Linked DNA regions of Homo sapiens: region 2 is linked to region 1. Evidence: fine-mapped expression QTL. A gene starts in region 1. The other region holds a variant in brackets. All regions are shown on one strand. Distances are from middle to middle.

Evidence for each region. PIP is the estimated chance that this variant, and not a neighbour inherited with it, causes the effect.
Region 2: its variant is fine-mapped to the expression of GJA3 in whole blood (TOPMed, PIP above 0.99). The same link has a PIP of 0.9 or more in T cells, blood mononuclear cells, esophagus mucosa and fibroblasts.

Annotation. Positions count from the first base shown.
Region 1 is chr13:20,158,612-20,162,611 of GRCh38, forward strand. It overlaps GJA3 (gap junction protein alpha 3), which reads right to left and starts at 2,441. Exons shown (of 2, transcript NM_021954.4): 1 at 2,279-2,441. RefSeq lists silencers at 2,172-2,261, 2,422-2,501, 2,732-3,091.
Region 2 is chr13:20,118,721-20,122,873 of GRCh38, forward strand. LOC105370101 (a long non-coding RNA gene) reads right to left here and starts at 1,069. Exons shown (of 3, transcript XR_941719.3): 1 at 985-1,069. The variant A/G (reference allele first, on the strand shown) is at 1,725.

The sequences.
Region 1 (4,000 bases):
TTAAAAAAGCAAGCAGTAGGCTGGGCGCGGTGGCTCACGCCTGTAATTCCAGCACTTTGGGAGGCTGAGGTGGGTGGATCACCTGAGGTCAGGAGTTTGAGACCAGCCTGTCCAACATGGTGAAACTGTGTCTCTACTAAAAATACAAAAATTAGCCAGGCGTGGTGGCGCATGCCTGTAATCCCAGCTACAAGGGAGGCTGAGGCAGGAGAATCGCTTTAACTGGGAGGCAGAAGTCGCAATGAGCCAAGACTGTGCCACTGTGCCATTGCACTCCAGCCTGGACAAGAGCAAAACTCTCAAAAAAAAAAAAAAAAAAAAAAAAGAAAAAGAAAAAGAAAAAAAGCAAGCAGTAGAGTACTAACCTAGTTATCATGAGGAATTTTCCACCACTGTAGGAATGAAAATTAAGATGAAACTTTATTATTTTTATTGCCTTTAAGCATTATACAGAAATTGCAGAAACATACTGTTTTTTAGAGACATATATGCTGTTGTCACATATATTGGATTTTTTCCCTCCTCAATTCAGTAAACATTTATTATTATTATAAAACATTATTACCTATTGTGTGTGGCACTGTGCCACACACTGAGGACAGCAAAACAATTAAGATCCAGTCCTCACTCTCAGGAGATTCATTTGCAATCTATGAGAGAGGCAGAGTGGCAAAAAACAGATCAAAATGTAAGTACTACATAGTACTGGGAATAGCTACCATCCAGCGGAGGGAGGAAGAAGGCATGGTGGTAGACGCCTGTAGTCCCAGCTACTCGGGAGGTTGCAGTGAGCCGAGATCGCACCACTGCACTCCAGCCTGGGTGACAGAGCGAGACTCCATCTCAAAAAAAAAAAAAAAAAAAAAAAAAAAAAAGGCTGCGATAAACGTAATTTTTCGTTTCAAATGTAGTGTGTACACGTTATTTTAGCTAAGAGAAATGAATATAATAAGTTAAAATGTGAGTAACATTCAAGAAAACTGGGTCAAAAATATTTTCCTTATTGGCAAAAAATTTTGTTACCCGCCATTCTTTTAAGACAGCTTTCAGCCAGTTAACGGTTCCTGGTTAAGAAACAGTACTGTCTGATTTGTTAGAGTAGTACCGTTTCGTGAATTACTTTCCACTACAGCAACACATGCATTGCCCTTATGAGATGCTTATCTCGATATGAACCAAACTGCTGAGCAGGTGGAATCTGTGCCAAACTAGCTGATGTTTACTTTGAACACACTGATATTCGGAAAATAAATCCCTCTTTTTTCCTCTTTAATCTTTTAATGTTTGTCTTGCACATGGATGGACCGCCAGTGAAGTGATGCGCACATCATAAATCACCATGGTTTTTAATTCCTGGGTGATGAGACCCATAATTCGCTTGTCAGCTGTTTGTATAGAATCATTTTTAAATGGCATGTTTTGGAGACATCTTGATAAAATAAAAACTGGAGTTCTAAAGTTGCAGTCACATATTCACGAACCGAGAACTCTACATGGTAGGATGAATTTTGCTCACTAGTGTGGAGTCGGCAACAAAGCAAATGCAGCCGCGTCACTGCCGTTTGTTTTCTCAAGTCTCCTACGGGAAGGGGCTCGGACAGTGCTTTTCCACTCCTCTGCAAATTCCTTATAGTTGAACACATCATAACAAACATACAGGTCGAGAAATCTGGTCGTGGCATTAATAGCTACAGTGTTTCTTAAAAATAAAAAGTTTTAAAAAGTTTCTGAAAAAAATGTAGGCGAGCCAACCTTGTTTCTAAACAATCCCAACAGGACTTTTAGGAGCACGGCGATGCTGAATGCCCGTGGACGGCTGGGTGCGCGCCGTTAGCTGGCGCGGTGACATCTGCTTAGAGTTTTCAAGCATTTCAGCATCGCTAGGAGCCCTACAGCCTGACGGTCCGGGACAGCCCGGCTTCCTCCACCCGAGGGGGAAAACAACCCCAGGAAAACAACTTAAACTCGGCCTTGGACTGTCCATCAAGGGAAGCCAAACGAGGCGCTGCTCTCCAGACCTCCAGGAGCAAAGGAGGAAGATCAATTATTCCAAAAGTTTCTCACAAATTTCCCGAGCTCCCCACAACTTTTTGAAGAATCCTGAAAGAATCCTAGGGGGCTGGGAGCCGCACACGTGCCGGGGCTCGGCTTCCCAGCTCGGCAGTCTCAGCCCGCTGGGCTCGCCCGGCAGCTCCGCTGCGCCGCCGACCCGCCCGTCCCCGCCCCGCGCTGCCCTCGGCCCCTGTGCCTGGCCTCCGGGGCGCCCGGCCCGCCTTACCCCGCTCTGCCGCGGCGGCGACCCGGGTGCGTTCCTCCGGAGCAGGGCTCCCGGCCGCTCTGAAAAGAATTCCTTTCACACGTGCGGTGCTGCTTCACGCGTGCGCCCCGCGCCAGGGCCCGACCTCCCCGCCCTGATCGCCATCCCTGCAGCCCCAGTGTGCGCTGCGCCCGACGCCCCCAAGCTGCAGCTCAGGACGCCGCGCCACGCCCCCGCCGCCTCCGAACAGCCCCGCCCCGCGCGCTTCCCAGCACGCACACCTACCGCCCCCGCATCCCTACCCTGTACGCGCAGCCACAGCACTCGCCCGCGTCCGCATTCCACACCCTACCCCGCGCGCACGTCCATGCCTAGCGCCTGCATCCCCATCCCGCACCTGCGCGGGCCCTGGGGATGTGGACGCGGGGGCTCTTCCCTGCCGCCTACGCACTCCGGGGCATGCCCGCGCGGGACGTGAGAGGAGAGCCGAGGGCTGTTGGGGCGGGCCCGACCCGCTTGCGGGGCGCCCACCGCACGCAGATGCGCCAGCCCGCGCCCCGCTCGCGCCTGTCCTGGGCTTCGCAGGCCCGGCGAGGTAGCTGCTCTCCGGGCGCTCCCACGGTCGGAGGCGCGTGGGCGTCGGGCACCTAGGTCTCGCCCGCCTGCAGCCGCCTGGGGACGCGGGTTCCGGACGGCTGGCGCGGGGCGGGGCGGGGACCACCGAGCAGGAAGTCCCCGCGGAAGCGCCGCCGGGCACAGCGTGGGTGCTGTCGAGGAGTGGCGCCCGGGCGGGGCGGGAGGTTATAAATAGCGGCCGCCATCCTGCTTCTCTTCAGACACACTTAATTTAGCCGGCAGGCACACGGATGCTTATTTTTAAAAAAAGAACTTGTTTTATTGCGCTCGAGGTGACCGGGAAGGTGTCCCCGCGGGTCACTCGCTCCATCTGGTCCTGGAGACGAGATGCCAGGGCGAGGCCTAACCTGCCTGCTGGCGCCCAACGAAGATTTTAACGTTTTCTGTTCCCTTCGGGGTGGTTTTACCACGCTTGAGAGGGACGCCTACCGCGGAAGGCCGCGGACCGAGGGCGGCATCGCGTCCTTGTCTGCTGTCTGGGCACAGCCTAGAGAGGCCGCGGGTCCCCTCCCCGTCCCCCAAGGTCTGGAGTGGGGTTTGACCAGCCTGGGATATTAACAAATATCGGTGGACTGCATTTCGGTGATCATTCCACAAGCTGAAATGGCTTCAAAATCACCTTTATGAGTAATAAGTTTATTCCAGGAATGTGGCAAAATGCAAGTCTGATAGTTTTCGTGTCTTCATGGAGCAGCTTCCGTCGGCTGCCTTCGTTAGCGTTTAGATCTACTCGGATTAGCAGTTGGCTTGCCCTGAAAAATGCGTTTGTTCTGCTGAGATCTGAATTTAAAGTTATCCCAAGGAGGAAAAACTAAGCTCCTAAAGGCGCATCTAAAATATCTTCTCCCTTTGGGAACTTTGCGGTGTATGTATGGAGTAGGTAGTAGTTACGGAGACTTAGTTTTTAATTTTTAATTGAAAAATGCTACCTTTGAAGGTCTTAAAATACTTGAATATTTTTCTCATTTAAAACATTTTCTCTGAGAAGCACAGGAATAGTTTTTTTTTTTTTGTTGATCACAAAAGCACTAGGAATTGTTAATATTTGTAGTCTGTTTGCCAAATGCTATTATTGGTATTCTGAGGATAAAAATGGAAATATAATAT
Region 2 (4,153 bases), 40 kb before region 1:
CCTTTTGGCACAGAAGTGAGGAAGAGCAGCTGAGCTGGTCTCGGTCTCCCAGCTCCTGCAGTCTGAGGACCCCGGGATGCTCCAGCCAGGGCAGACCCGCGCGGGGGGTGCCCTTCCCCCACCCCCTTCCCTGCGGGATGCCCCCTTCCCTCGCCTCCCCCGCGGGGTGCCCCTTCGCTTCCCTCCCCACCCCTTCCCCGCGGGGTGCCCCTCCTCCCGGTGTCGCCTCCTTTCAGGTGCCTGCCCCTCCCCCATGTGTCTCCGCCCACGTCCGCCCCACCCCCACGCGTGTCGCCCCCGCCCCGTGTCCTCCCCCGCCCCTGTGGAAGGGAGGCTGGGGCTCCCGGGACCAGCAGGGAAGCAGCTGGCAGAGAACGTTGAGTGTTCTCTCTGCCAGGGCCTTCACCACCCTTTTCGGGGCCCTCACCCCGACCCACACCGCTTCCATTCTTGGGTGCAAAGGGCCTTCCTTAACAGTCGGCGGCAGCTCTGGGGCCGGCGCATTTTTTTCTGTGGGGGACACCCGGCACAAGAAGGGTGGAGGAATGGGGCTGCGCGTCACTCCCACAGCTTCTTAGAGAGCCGTTCGCAAGGAGGACCGAGTGTCACGTGAGTGAGCTGGAGGAGGTCACGTTACCTTCCTCCTGTGAGAGGCTCAAACACAGCTCAGGATTTTACCAGTATGGAGAGAAGAAACCTTCAGGCGGGGCGCGGTGGCGCTCCTGTGGCCCCAGCTACTCTGGAGGCCGAAACAGGAGGATTGCTTGTGCCCGAGTCGAGGCTGCAGTGAAGCCGATTGTTTCACTTTACTCCAGCCTGGGCAACAGAGCAAGACCCTGCCCCGACCCCCAAACACACACACACACACACACACACACACACACACACACACACAGAGAGAGAAAGAAAAAGAAACTTTCGGGAACCGGACAGCTTTTCTGTGCACTGGAAGGCACTCACCCCCCTGGCCTGGTAGACTCCTACCCATGAATCTGATGTCAGCTCAGACGTCTTCCTCCAGCTGCCTGTAGGACGCCTAGACCAGAAAGGGCGCCTCTAGATGCCCTCCTAGTTCTCAGGCCTTTTTCTTCATAGCACGTGTCACCGTTTGTGAGAACAAGTGATTTCTATGATTGAGAACTGTCTCCCCTTCTCGTCTGTGAGCCCTGTCAGTTCGGGGTGTCTGATTCTGCTCCCATGCTCAGTACCCAGAGGCTGATACATAGTATGCACTCGATAAAAAAAGGTTTTTGAGTGAATGAATCAATGTATCTGATCCCAGCTCTGCCTTTTACTAGCTCTGTGACACACTCAGATACTTAGCGTCTCTGAGTTTTACCTTCCACATGTGCACAGTGGTGCTAAGTGTTAAATAAGATTTATGGGAGGCCATTGAATTGGGCTGAGCTCCTGCACTAGGCCCCAGTAGGCCAGACCAAAATGGAATCACTTGTGCTAAGTGCCACGTAATCAAACTGAAACTTAAACAAAACAGGAAAATCCCCCACCAGGGCCAGTTTTCCTGAAAAAATAGGAGACTACCAGCAACCAGTCAAAAGGGGGCCAGTCCACTTGAGCCTGCATAAGAGAGGTTTCCTCCGCTTAAACTCATACAAGGAAATGTGGAGGGGTCCAGGTTGTTGGCGTTTTGAGCAAAGAATTGAACAAAACGCACAAACAAAGCAAGGAAAGAAGGAAGCAACAAAAGGAGAGATTTATCGAAA[A/G]TGAAAGTACGCTCCACAGGGTGGGAGCCGCTGGAGCATAGGGGCTCTTTTTACAGAATTTTCTGGGGTTTAAATACCTTCTAGAGGTTTCCCATTGGTTACCTGGTGTACACTCTATGTAAATGAAGTAGTGACCTGCAACCAGAGGCTGAGGTGAAGTTACAAAGGTTACACCCGATGCAAGCCTCTGTTTGCAAAGTGAAGTTACAAAGTTACAGTTCTATGCAAAGGAAGACTTGGCCCACAATCAAGCTGATTGGTTGTGGGAAGCGACCAATCAGAGGCTGAAGTGAAGTTACAAAGTTACAATCCTATGTAAACGTCTGATTGGCTGCCCTCAGAGACACTTTCAATTTTCCATCTGCCAGGCAGAAAAGGGTGGGGGTTTGCAAAGGGAGTAGCCTCCGGTTTTTTGTTTGTTTTTTCTTTTTTGAGACGGAGTTTCACTCTTGTCGCTCAGGCTACAGTGCAACGGCGCGATCTCCGCTCACTGCAACCTACGCCGCCCGGGTTCAAGCGATTCTCCTGCCTCAGTCTCCCGAGTAGCTGGGGTTACAGGCGCCCGCCAACACGCCAGACTAATTTTTGTATTTTTAGTGGAGACGGGGTTTCACCACGTTGGCCAGGCTGGGCTGAAACTCCTGACCTCAGGTGATCCGCCCACCTCGACCTCCCAAAGTGCTGGGATTACAGGCGTGAGCCACCATGCCCGGCTACCTCCGGTTTTTTTGTTACTTAGGTGTGAAAAGTTGGGGTTTTCCTTTTGATTTAGTTCTAGGAAGTCAGCGTGAAATCGGCCTTAGGTTCCCTGCCTCCAGACCCTATTCTCCGCCTCAGAAAGTCACCCAATGATAACCAATGCACTTTTCTCACCACACGATTTCCTCATTCCTGCTTGAGCTGCCTTACCAAAGCCGATTGTTCTGCAACACCCAGCCGAGTGCCTTCTGTTTTGTAGTCTGGAGGCTGCCTGTTTCATACATTGCTAATAAGAGTCAATTAAATCTTTAAAACTCAATTTGTCAAAATGTTGTTCTTTGGTGTCAGAGACCAATACTGTAGGGAATTTGTGTTCATTGACTGAGCTCAAGTACATAGAACAGCTGGAGGGAAGAGACGCGCAGGGCAAGGTATGAGGTGGGGGCTGCAGGTGCACCACATTCCCACAACTTGGAAACTCTTCCAACCTGCTTGTTCAAGAGCTTTTTTAGAGCTTGATTTCTAGTCCCCTCCCCTTCTCACAGGTCTAGGGGTGAGGCTGAAGGATCCAACCTCCTACTTACCTGGTCTTTCCGGTGACCAACCCCATCCTGAAGCTATCTAAGGGTTCACCCTAAGTCACCTCAGTAGCATAAACTCAGATGTGATCAATAGGTGCTTCATTATGAATAACAAAAGACACTACTATCACTCAGGAAATTCTAAGGGCTTTAGCGGCTCTGTGCTAGGAACCAGGGACAAAGACCAAATATATTTCTCTAAATGTACCCTATCATCCTAATGGGCTCAAGGTGGTATCTTATTGTGGTTTCGATTTGCCCTTTCCCCAGTGATTACTGACATTCAGCATCTTTGGTGCTTATTAGCAATTTGTATGTATTCTTTGGAGAACTGTTTATTCATGTCCTTTGCCCATTTTAAAATTGGGTTGTTTGGGTTGTGCGTGGTGGCTCCTGCCTGTAATCCCAGCATTTTAGGAGGCCGAGGTGGGCAGATCACCTGAGGTCAGGAGTTCAAGACCAGCCTGGCCAACATGGTGAAACCCCGTCTCTACTAAAATTACAAAAATTAGCAGGGCATGGTGGCAGACGCCTGTAATCCCAGCACTTTGGGAGGCTGGGGTGGGGGAATCACGAGGTCAAGAGATCGAAACCATCCTGACCAACATGGTGAAACTCCGTCTCTACTAAAAATATGAAAATTAGCTGGGCATGGTGGCACGTGCCTGTAATCCCAGCTACTCGGGAGGCTGAGGCTCGAGAATTGCTTGAACCTGGGAGGCAGAGGTTGCAGTGAGCCGAGACTGTGCCACTGCACTCCAGCCCCAGTGACAAGAGTGAAACTCAGTCTCAAAAAAGAAAAAAACCAAAAAAACAAAAATTGGGTTGTTTATTTTTTTGTCATTGAGTTTAGGAGTTTTTTGTTTTTTGTAGTTGAGGGTTTGTTGTTGTTGTTGAGTTGCTTATATAGTCTGAATATTAAACCCTTATCAGATATATGATTTACAAACATTTTCTCTCATTCTGTGGGCTGCCCTCTGTTGATAATGTCCTTCGATACACAACAGTTTTTACTTTTGATTGATTTGTCTATTTTTCTTGTTGTTTGTGCTTTTGGTGTTGTAGCCAGGAAACCACTGATGCTAAATCCAGTGTCATAAAGCTTTCCCCTTGTTTTATTCTAAGAGTTTTACAGTTTTAGCTTCTACA